Linked DNA regions of Homo sapiens: region 1 is linked to region 2. The links come from fine-mapping of genetic effects on gene expression. A gene starts in region 2. The other region holds a variant in brackets. All regions are shown on one strand. Distances are from middle to middle. Region 1 overlaps CENPC (centromere protein C). Region 2 holds the start of CENPC (centromere protein C).

The links. PIP is the estimated chance that this variant, and not a neighbour inherited with it, causes the effect. A credible set is the group of variants that fine-mapping cannot tell apart.
Region 1: its variant is the best candidate, but not a certain one, in a credible set for the expression of CENPC in whole blood (INTERVAL, PIP 0.55).

Annotation. Positions count from the first base shown.
Region 1 is chr4:67,516,385-67,521,770 of GRCh38, forward strand. It overlaps CENPC (centromere protein C), which reads right to left. Exons shown (of 19, transcript NM_001812.4): 6 at 2,833-3,118; 7 at 1,772-1,984. Among named protein-coding and RNA genes, the nearest start is that of CENPC, 26 kb to the right of the region's middle. RefSeq lists enhancers at 3,589-4,090, 4,091-4,590. The variant C/T (reference allele first, on the strand shown) is at 2,155.
Region 2 is chr4:67,542,365-67,547,750 of GRCh38, forward strand. CENPC (centromere protein C) reads right to left here and starts at 3,139. Exons shown (of 19, transcript NM_001812.4): 1 at 2,974-3,139; 2 at 1,785-1,831. The coding sequence starts at 2,991. RefSeq lists enhancers at 2,894-3,133, 2,911-3,461 and a silencer at 3,284-3,423.

The sequences.
Region 1 (5,386 bases), 26 kb before region 2:
CACTTTTTCACTAGGATAAGAAGGCTTAGTTAGCTATGTTTAGCCATAACAGAAACAAAGACAGAATGCAAAAATTAGATTATGTTTTTCTCTTTTAATTAGAACATACACAAGGAATCAGAAATGAAAATGCCTTCTCTATTCCTCTAATCGCAAACTCCTGACAAATCTTATAATGTAAAATAGCAAATACTCTAAAAAATATACTCTCTAATGGTAGAGTTTCACAAACTTATATAATTAGAAAACTCTATAAAAACTAATAAAGAACAAAGTCAATACAAATACTACAATGAATGGATGTTAAACAGAAATGATATCCTTAGGAAACAATCTTGACACTATGAAAGTTTACAATAGGGAAAGATGGCTTCTAATTAGCTACAAAAACTATGAAACGCTTTGTAGCATTTAGGCTAGATCTTGGAGGATTTCTAAGATTTGGTCACAAGGAAATGCAAGAAAGACAATCAAAAGGAAGAGCATAAGTGGAAGCAATGATGCTAGAAAGCACTGGGAATAATGAATAGTTATATTTGACTACAACAATTAAACATAAGATGAACTTTACTCACTAGAGTATCAAAAAGAACATTAAAAAATAATTTCTCAGACATTATATAATTAGCCCACAAGTATAACGCATTTGTTTCAGATGGTGGTGACAATATCCATATGAGGTTTAAAATATACACATAAAAATAATTAATCAACTACAGGAAGCAGAGACTGAACAAAAGGGGAATTTCATTCATTCATTTAACATGTTTTTATAAAAACTTCCTTTTTATTTTTGAGACTGAGTCTCACTCTGTCACCTAGGCTAGAGTGCAGTGGCACCGTCTCGACTCACTGCAACCTCCACCTCCCAGGTTCAAGTGTTTCTCTTACCTCAGCCTCCCGAATAGCTGGGATTACAGGCATGTGCCACCAAGCCCGACTAATTTTTGTATTTTTAGTAGAGATGGGGTTTCACCATGTTGGTCAGGCTGGTCTTGAACCTCTGATCTCAAGTGATCCACCCGCCTCGGCCTATCAAAGTGCTAGCATTACAGACATGAGCCACCGCGCCCAGCAATAAAAACTTCCTAGTATATTCACTAGCACTCTGATACCTATGATAGTGACATAAGGGCAGCCTAACATAACGATTTCTAAATACTGCATTGTCGGCCGGGTGCGGTGGCTCAAGCTTGTAATCCCAGCACTTTGGGAGGCCGAGGCAGATGGATCACCTGAGGTCAGGAGTTCGAGACCAGCCTGACCAACATGGGGATATCCCATCTCTACTAAAAATACAAATATTAGACAGGCGTGGTGGCAGGTGCCTGTGATCCCAGCTACTCGGGAGGCTGAGCAGGAGAATCTCTTGAACCCAGGAGGGAGAGGTTGCAATGAGCCGAGATTGCGTCACTGCACTCCAGCCTGGAAGACAGAGCGAGACCCTGTCTCAAAATAAATACATACATACATACATAAATACTGCATTGACTTCAGTCTTTGATATCACACAGACAAACCAGAAGGCAATGAAAACTGAATAAACTTGTTTTCTTTCAAGTCTAATTTAGTATCTATTAAAAAATGGCTTTGGGAGTGACTCACTGACTGGTAAAAAACCATCTCTCCTTACAGGTCAGAAAAAATTTCAATTAAAATTTTTGTTAATTAAATTACTTATTTCTAAGTTAAATAGCATTAGGAATCCTTATATATGGTTCATAGAATATAAAAGAAAAATGTCTCAAAGGGCAGTTTCTTAATAACTCACCTGGATTCACTTTTTCGTTTTACTGTTTCTAAAAACAATGTTGAAAAACTTTTTTTAGCTTGTCGTTGAATTTCATATTCTGAATCTCGTATTCTATTCTGAGATGATCCTGATGGTTTTCTTTCTTGTCCTTCCGATGTTTTATCCTCTTCATCTGATACTTTATTATCTATTTCTATTTTCTTTAACATAACTTTATCATCAAAGTTTAACCTAAAAGGTTAAAAGGAGGGTAAGCTGAATGCTCCCGTAACGTTTCTTGAGTTATAAGTCTTCCTGAACTCCTTTACAGAGACAATACAGACCAATTTAAAATTCTGTACTAGGCATTTATTTAAGACATAAATGCTGATTTGTGCATTCCAAATACATAAGATAAACTG[C/T]TCAGGAAAATTAACTTTTGTATTTATCAATAGAAAAACATGAAAGAGAAAATAATGGCTAAAGTATACATCAATGAAATGTATAGCTAGGCAATGGTTCTCAGGGCAATCTTAGAGCACTGTGACAGACCAAACTTTGAATATCAAAGTCTTAGAATATACTTAACTCCTTGGCTCCAGTAATCATACAATACTCTAAATAGAAATTACACTCATTACAGAGATCTCCAAATGCAAAAGACCTTGAATCCACTTTGTTTCCTAAAGGCCAAAGGTAAGGTCAAGAAAGAGAAACCAGCTGTCCACAAAGCATAGCATCCTCAATAATACTTATGCTCTGCTACCCTTGAAGTGACCTGATACACATCTACACTTGCAATTACAAAAAATATTGAGAAAATACAAATTGTTTCTCTTAGGAAGCAATCAAATATTATCAGAGAGAAAACACATTATTCCAGACTATAGAAAAGTTAACCTCTAAACTTCTCTGAAGTACACTTTAAGCCCTTCCTTAATTATTACAAACTGAATATATGCTAAATGTATACTTTCTCATAACATGTTAATATTCCTCCTTCCTTAGTGTAAAATAATATAACAAGATTGAATTACCATTTTTTAATACAAAAAGTAAAATTTTTAAAGTGCGTTAACATTATTTAAATAAAATGTTACCTTTTTTTGGTTTTAACTGAAACCTCTGTACTTGAAGGCAGCATATTTACTGAATTTTCAAAAGTGTAAGTCTCTCTCTTTTGGGCACTAGATGGAATAACATTTTGTGATACAGATGTTTTTGCATCCAAAAGAACAGAAGGTGAGCCAACGGATAAGTAAAATTCTTCATCAGCTTCACTGTGATGATCATTTATGTTTCTACTTGATATTTTTTTCGAGTCAGGTGTATTTTTGGAACTAACATCAGTTGCCAGAATTTTCTGATGAACTTCATGGGCCTGAACTAGAAGAAAATTATATAAAGATATTTGTCAATTAAAAGAATAATAAGAGAATCAAGCAGGCTTTTTAAAAATTCTGCAATAATTTAATCAGAAATAGTTTTCAGAAAACTCAAAGTCATTAAGATTAGAATCAAAGATCTATGATTAAAATAAGTAAGTACTTAAGATTCTTCTATCTTTGGGCTAAAAATTGGTGACCTAGGGCAGCTAGATGATATATTTACACATACACACATGGAATATAGATATAACAGATATAGAGAGATACAACATAAGCATGTGTGTATATATACATACACAGTATATATGTATATGAACATTTATCTATAATGAGAAAATTTAAAAGAATGTATCCATATTCTCTTAACCCTCACCCTTCAGAACGAGATGGCATTTCCCTGCTTCTCCCTCTAAATACAACTAACTTCCCTGGAAATTATCCATCAATCAACAACAGGACTCTGAAAGCTGGAAGAAAAAAAGGTAGACTAGCTAGGAAGCTCAAGACCAGAAACAGACAAGCCTTAGGTTTTCTGTCTGTCTCCCATATACCCCTGGACTGGTTGCTAGTATAACCTGTAACCACCAATAGGTGAAAGACAGGGTGGAGGCTGGGTGGAAATGCATTCTCTGAACAAGGTAAACCCACCGAAGACCTAATGAGGAAACTCAAGCCCCATTCAGCACTCTCGGCCATGGAGCACTCCTTACTACCTGCATTGGCAAAGCAACAAAGCCCTGGGCTGTGCTATGGGACTGTAGCAGTAAAGGAGCTCATACCAAGCCAGTCCCGCTTCTACAATCATAGATGGCAGGCGGTATGACCCACATGAAGCTGTAGAGTAGTGAAACCCCTGACCTTCACAGCCCAAGGCAACATTTTGATCCACTGATAGTATTGACACCCCAGGCCATCCCAGTCCCTACTTTACAACCAGGGCACCAGCAGACAGTCTAATCTGAGGCAAGAACAGCGTAAGAGAGGCCAGCAACCCCCTGTCCTCCACCCAATGATATAAGGAAACCCAGGACCAGCAGCTTCTAACCAGAACCCCACACAAGTGAACATGGACATCAAAAGGCATCTTCTACCCACCCCAGACAGCACCAACAGGAACTGAGCTAGAATCCTAACAGCATCAGAAAATGAAGTAGAACAAAATACCACTATTACTCTGAACACTTAACTATCATTGAAAATAAAACTCATAAAACTAGGAAAGAGGGGCTGGGCGCAGTGGTTCATGCCTGCAATCCCAGCACTTTGGGAGGCCAAAACGGGTGGATCACTGGAGGCCAGGAGTTCAAGACCAGCCTGGCCAACATGGCGAAACCCCATCTCTACTAAAAATACAAAAATTAGCCAGGCGTAGTGGCACATGCCTGTAATCCCAGCTACTCGGGAGGCTGAAGCATGAGAATCACTTGAACCCAGGAGGCGGCGGTTGCACTGAGCTAAGATCACACCACTGCCCTCCAGCCTGAGCGACAGAGCAAGACTCTGTCTCAAAAAATAAACAAATAAATAAATAAATAAATAAATAAATAAATAACACAGGAAAGAACCTATACATTAAACCAAAATAGGGCAACTATGTGCTGTAACAAAAGATTTAAGTAGTCTAAGAATCCCCTAACATAAGTAACCAAATCTCAGGAATACAATCAAAACAACTCGTCATACCAAAACCAAAACAAACCAAAAAAAAAAAAAAGTAAGAAATAATGATCAATAGACATAAATGAGATGAATCAGATTTTAAAATTATTTAACAATAAATTTTAAAGCAAACATCATAAAATGCTTTAATAATCAATTACAAATCCTCTTGTAACAAATGAAAAAGAAACTCTCAAAGTAGCATTTTTTAAAAAAAAGTTTTTTGGATATTAGCCATTATCAGTAAGTAGTGATTTTTAAATATTATTTTAAATTTTCCTAATAACAGTGATGTAAAACAAATCAAAACTACAATGAGATACTACATCACACCCATTAGGATGACTATTATTTATAAAAACAAAAGATAACAACTGTTGATGTAGAAAAAAATGGAACCTTTGTGCATGCACTGCTAGTGTGAATGTAGAATGACAGTCACTATGAAAAGTGCACAGTGGATCCTTAAAAACTTAAAACTGAAAGCAGGAACTCAAAGAGATACTTTCACACTAATATTCATAGCAGCATTACTCACAATAGCCAAAAAGCGAAAACAACCCAAGTGCCCATCAACAGATTAATAGATAAAAAGTGGTATACACAT
Region 2 (5,386 bases):
ACATTCCTATTATTGAGAGCTGGAAAAGTACTATATATGCAGTAATTAAAAACTGTGAGCCACAGTGCATTATCAGGTCATCCATCATAAAGTTTTATAACTGAAAGATCTCAGAAATCATCCAGTCCAATAATCATCATCCAAATAGATGTGTAAAGTTACTTTTGGAGCTTTGCAGAAATACACTTAATTGGTCACTTCCCACAAACCAATTTAATTAGATTTCCTAGGGTGATGGAGGTAATTCTGATGTGCAAATCTAGTTAAAAACCCCTAGCTGAATCCTATGCCCTCATTTTGCAGATAGGCAAACTGAAACCCAAAATGGTCAAATGGCCTACCTCAGTTTGTAAACCTAAGTAGTATTAGTGGCCGGTTTTCTACCAGAATATATATAGGTGACTATTATAAATTCTGGCCTTGACATCACCCCAAAATACCACCTACAGGTGCACATATTGCACAGCTATAAATACACTCCTGCTATTACCTGTTTCAAGGATGAGATCCAAAAAGATCAGATTTGCCAAGGTGATAATGCAGAGTCACTATTAGAACGCAGGTCACATTAGGCAACAGCTTTTTCAAAATTTATCAAATTCGTCTTTTCTTCCCCTTTGTCATTATTACCTTAGCATAAAAGCACCTCCACCATGTGTAGATTACTACAACACCCTCCTTAAGCTACTTTGTAAACATCAAACATCTTTGCTTTTTTAAATGTGTGTGTGTGTTTATATCAGATAGCCCTTATTCCACAGAAGATTTAGGAGAGCTTATTCAAGCCTATAATAGATGCCTAAAGCCTAACATATCCATTTTATGGCTCAATCCAACTCATATGGTCTTGTTTTCCACTTCTACCCAACATATTCAACCTTCTTAAATCAGGTCTCTCTGCTACTGACAAATATATGTATTCCTACTTTGGTTCCTTCGTTAAGTTACTTTCTATGTCTGGAATATACTTTATCTTAGTCTTTAAATACCTGTTCAAGGTCCACCAAAGTTACACTACAACTTTAAAGCTTTTCTTAATATCAACAACACACAAATCCCTAATTTCTCACATGGCTGTCTATACTGCAAGTTAATGCCTAATTATATATAGGCCTACTCTCTATGATACACAAGTCATTACTTCAGTATTGCAAGTAATAATTTTTGTCCATTAAATTGTTTCACAAATGTACATATACATTTTCCCAACAGAAATCTAAGCTTCTTGTAAACAAAAGAACATACTTCTGTGCCCCATTGGACCTACTAAAATCACAGCTCAATAAACATGACGTTATTCATAATAACATCTTCACTTTTAAAAACATGCTTTTCATCCTATTACTAGTAAATATTTAACTAGAAAATTTACTTTTTACAGGTTTTACAACTAAAAGAAGAACCAAAACAACCCAAACAAGCACTCAACAAATGCACGACAGCATGTACTATTTTTCTTTTTGCCCCACTGAATAAGCTACATCTTTCTAATTTTACCATTTGATTCATTCTACAAAATGCTTTTCCCATGGCAGTCACTTAGTCAGAACTGAGACTCCCTCTTCCTGGTTCCACTATTTTATCAGGTGAATTTCTTTTTTCACAGCCACAAAGTCATTGCACTGCTTGCATTAACATTCCCGTTAGTATAAGATGACTACCCTTAATCAGTGGGCACAGAAATCATTATATTAGTCAGAGGTGATAGTTTTTCCTTTCTTCATTTAAAAATCTATTAACGATGAGAATAAAAATAATCTTAAAAGCTTAAGTACGTAAATCACCTGGAAGGTCGACAAAATCTTCTTCTGTAGCCATTTTTGAGATGATCCTGAAAGAAAAGTAAATCATCAATTTGGTTTCTTTAAGATAGAGTCGAGTAAAATTTATTTTCAAAGTAACTTCATCCAGTATGGGCATGCTATACACCAAACATCTCCTAAGGGCTCAAAACAATTTTGAGGTTATGTTATGACATAACATAGGTTATGACAGGCATTTAAAAACTGAACTGCAGGCATCTGGTAAGCTTTATTCCGCTTCTCTCCCCACAGTGAGAATGGCTTTATTGCTTTCTTCTGATTATATATAATGTAAACAATATATGTGCTCATAGTAAAAAGTATAGATTATATTATTCTTTCATACAACTCTTTATGTTTATATGTATAACGTCACATAATGGGAGATCATCGAAGCTGAAGATTTTCTTAGAAGGGGAGATAAATTAGAAAAGAAATGATACGGATTTTTATATAGTAACCATAACCAAAGTATGAAATATAGAATAGTGAACACCAAAGAAGTCCAGAAATATGTAAACAAAATGAGTTGTCGCCCCCATTAGTCATTCACAGCTTGTACCTTTTAACTGATAGCTGTCTTTCAGAAGAGTTTGTCAATAACATATGCTCCATAAATCAGCCTCAAGAACTGCATAAAAGGCCACCATTTTGACAGAAGAACTGAAAACGTCAAATTATTTCGAGACGTACTTGTTACATAATCTGTTTCTCCCAACTACCAAGTGTGACGCAAAGACACACTTTTAAGGCGTTTCAATACTTCTACCATGGGGAGAAAAGTTATTTGGAGGCCTAGGAACTGGAGCTAGACTAAAAAGCAGAAGCCAAGATCGCGCCACTGCACTCCAGCCTGGGGGACAGAGCAAGACCCCGTCTCAAAAACAAAAACAAAAAAAAACCCAGCAGAAATCACAAGCACCTCTCAAGAGTAAGACGTAGGCACAGACGAAATGACGACATGAAAACTTAAGAAATAATAAAAGTACAGTAAATTAACTCTGGTTATCGACACACGATCACACTTGATTTCAAAAATTCCTGCGGCTTTCCCACTGAAATCCCTCAGAGATCACAGCCTCAGCCTAGCATTTCCTTCTCCCCAGCCTCGGGCGCCCGTGCCCCAGCCAGCCGCTCAACCACTCGCCTGGAGCGGGGGGCCTGCACTTACCAGACCGGACGCAGCCATGTTCCGGCCCCGCTGAGCCAGCGCAACTGTCTGAGGTGGAAGCCCACACGGACCACAGCTCCAGGAAGCCGAGCAAGAAACGAATCGCCGGAATACCAGGCCGCGGCCAAGCAATAACCTTAAGTCTCAGGCGACTGCCGCGAGAGCTGCGATCCGGAAGGCGCGCGCTAACAACACTCCCCCGCCATTGGCTCCGCCCTCAACAAACAAGAACGCTTGGCCTGTGCCTGGGTTTGAACCCGGAGACACATGCGCAAAACGGGCCGCGCCGTCCAATAGGAAGCAAGCCGTTAGTGGGCTCGCCCCTTCATGCTCCAGGCCAACGGCCCTCCAGCCTGCAGACCCACCCGCCCGCCCTACCTCTAGCCGCTCTGCTCTTCCCACCTCCCTTCCTCAGCGCCGCGCCCGGGACAGGCGCGAGACTGGGCTTTTATTAGGAAGGCACGATCCTGGGAACCGCTCCTTGTGCCCAATGTAAAACTTCTCAACAGTTCTATTAAGGAATAATAAGTAATACTTGGAAGGATGAGAGGTAGAAATTGCAGACGACTTTTTTTTTAATAGAATCTTTTTTTGAAGAGATTTTTCTAATGCAGATTCGTCAGCCACGCCCAGCCCATCTAACCATCATCTCTGAAAATAATTGAATAATTATGTATAATAATGGTGATGATGGCTTGTATTCTTTTTCAAGTATGTGGGCGATATTTTTATGATGCATTGCCAACAAATGACCCACGTAAATATCTATCATTTAAGTATGATGCACTGAAAAGAATTCTATACAGAATCCTGAAACCTGCCAGCCATTGACTAGCTATGTTATGGAGGGCAAAATTGCGGCACCATTCTGGGTGTTTCCATAGTGATAGAATGGAAGTCTAAATTAGACGCTCTGAAGACTTCTCACCTGACCAGTGTATGATTCTATGAAGCTGTATCTTATTTTATTATTTAATTTAAAATTACAAGAAAATTCTAATCAGAAAATAGTTTACTAATTGAATAAATACATTAATCAGGAGTTGAGCTAATAGATTTTTAAAACATGTAGTGCTTTAACAAATGCTGTCAACTATGAAGGCCAATTTTTTTATTTTATTTATTTTTTTGATAGAAAAAAAGGAACTATGATCTCTGACTGAAATTAGGCCTGGATTGCACTCCATTCCATTAATTCTGCCATTATGGGCAACTAAGTTATCTGTTCCTTAATTCTCTTGTCTGCAAAATGAGAATACTATTAAAGTGGTTGAGATGTTGTAATTGAATAATTCCTGTTAAGATCTAAGCACAATGTTTGGAACATAGTAAGAATTCAATAATAAAGCTATTGGAATCATTATGGAGAGTTTTTTACTATGTTTGGCAGTTTTGCCAATCAGTCCAACTTATAATTTGGTGCTGTCACATTTGGAATAGATAATGATAAACACTAACATTTATTGACTGCATACTCTATGCCCAGTTCTGAAATGCTTTGCATGCATTGAAGAGAACAATTAATATTCCTGTTTTATAAACAAGGGCACTGAAACACAGAGAGCTAAGTGTCTTACCCAAGATCACATCACCACTAAATGGTAGGATGGGTTATTATCCCAAGAATTCTCACTCCACAACTGAGCTCTTAATCACTACACTCTTTGCCTCTGGGTAAGAAATTTTAGCAAGCACGATTATAGATGTAAAGTCCCACATGTAAAATTATATCCTCCTGCTTCCACTGGAAACTAAGTCCCACACTTATTTTGAGAAATTTGGAATGCAATGGCTTGTGCTGCTGCAGAAAGCAGGCCACAGAGGGCGTTGAGGATTAACTGTTCTAAAGAAAATAGAGCAGTACTCTTATAAAAACAGTTGTGGAGACTCCACAGTTTCCAGAGAAACGTTTTACTTCCATATGTACTTGTTGTAGTACTTAATAGCCCACCATGGTTTTAGTATCCTAAAATAGGATTGCTAATTAATGGGGGGAGTAATATTTATTTAAAAACCCAAGTTTGTCGTTATAAATCTCCCCCCAAAATACATCAAAGATTACTTCTTATGAACTGCTAGGACAATCTTGAAGTTTTCTTTCACAACTACTTACCTAGTTAAGGGGTGTGTGTGCATGTGTGTATTTACATATCAGTATATGGAAGTATTAACATATACATAATTAGATGTGTATATGGGAACATAAAGTATCCAGAAATTTGGCTTGAAAGAGAAGTAAAAAAAACTTTTCGTTACTTATGGTTTTAGGTACATAATTTAAAATTTGTAAATCTTGAAACTATTTCAAAGAATATTTTGTTTTAGATCTTTGATTTCCATCAAATAACTATGGTATGGGTATTTACTACCAAAGTGTCTTCCATTAAGTGTTAGCACAAAAATATTCACAACT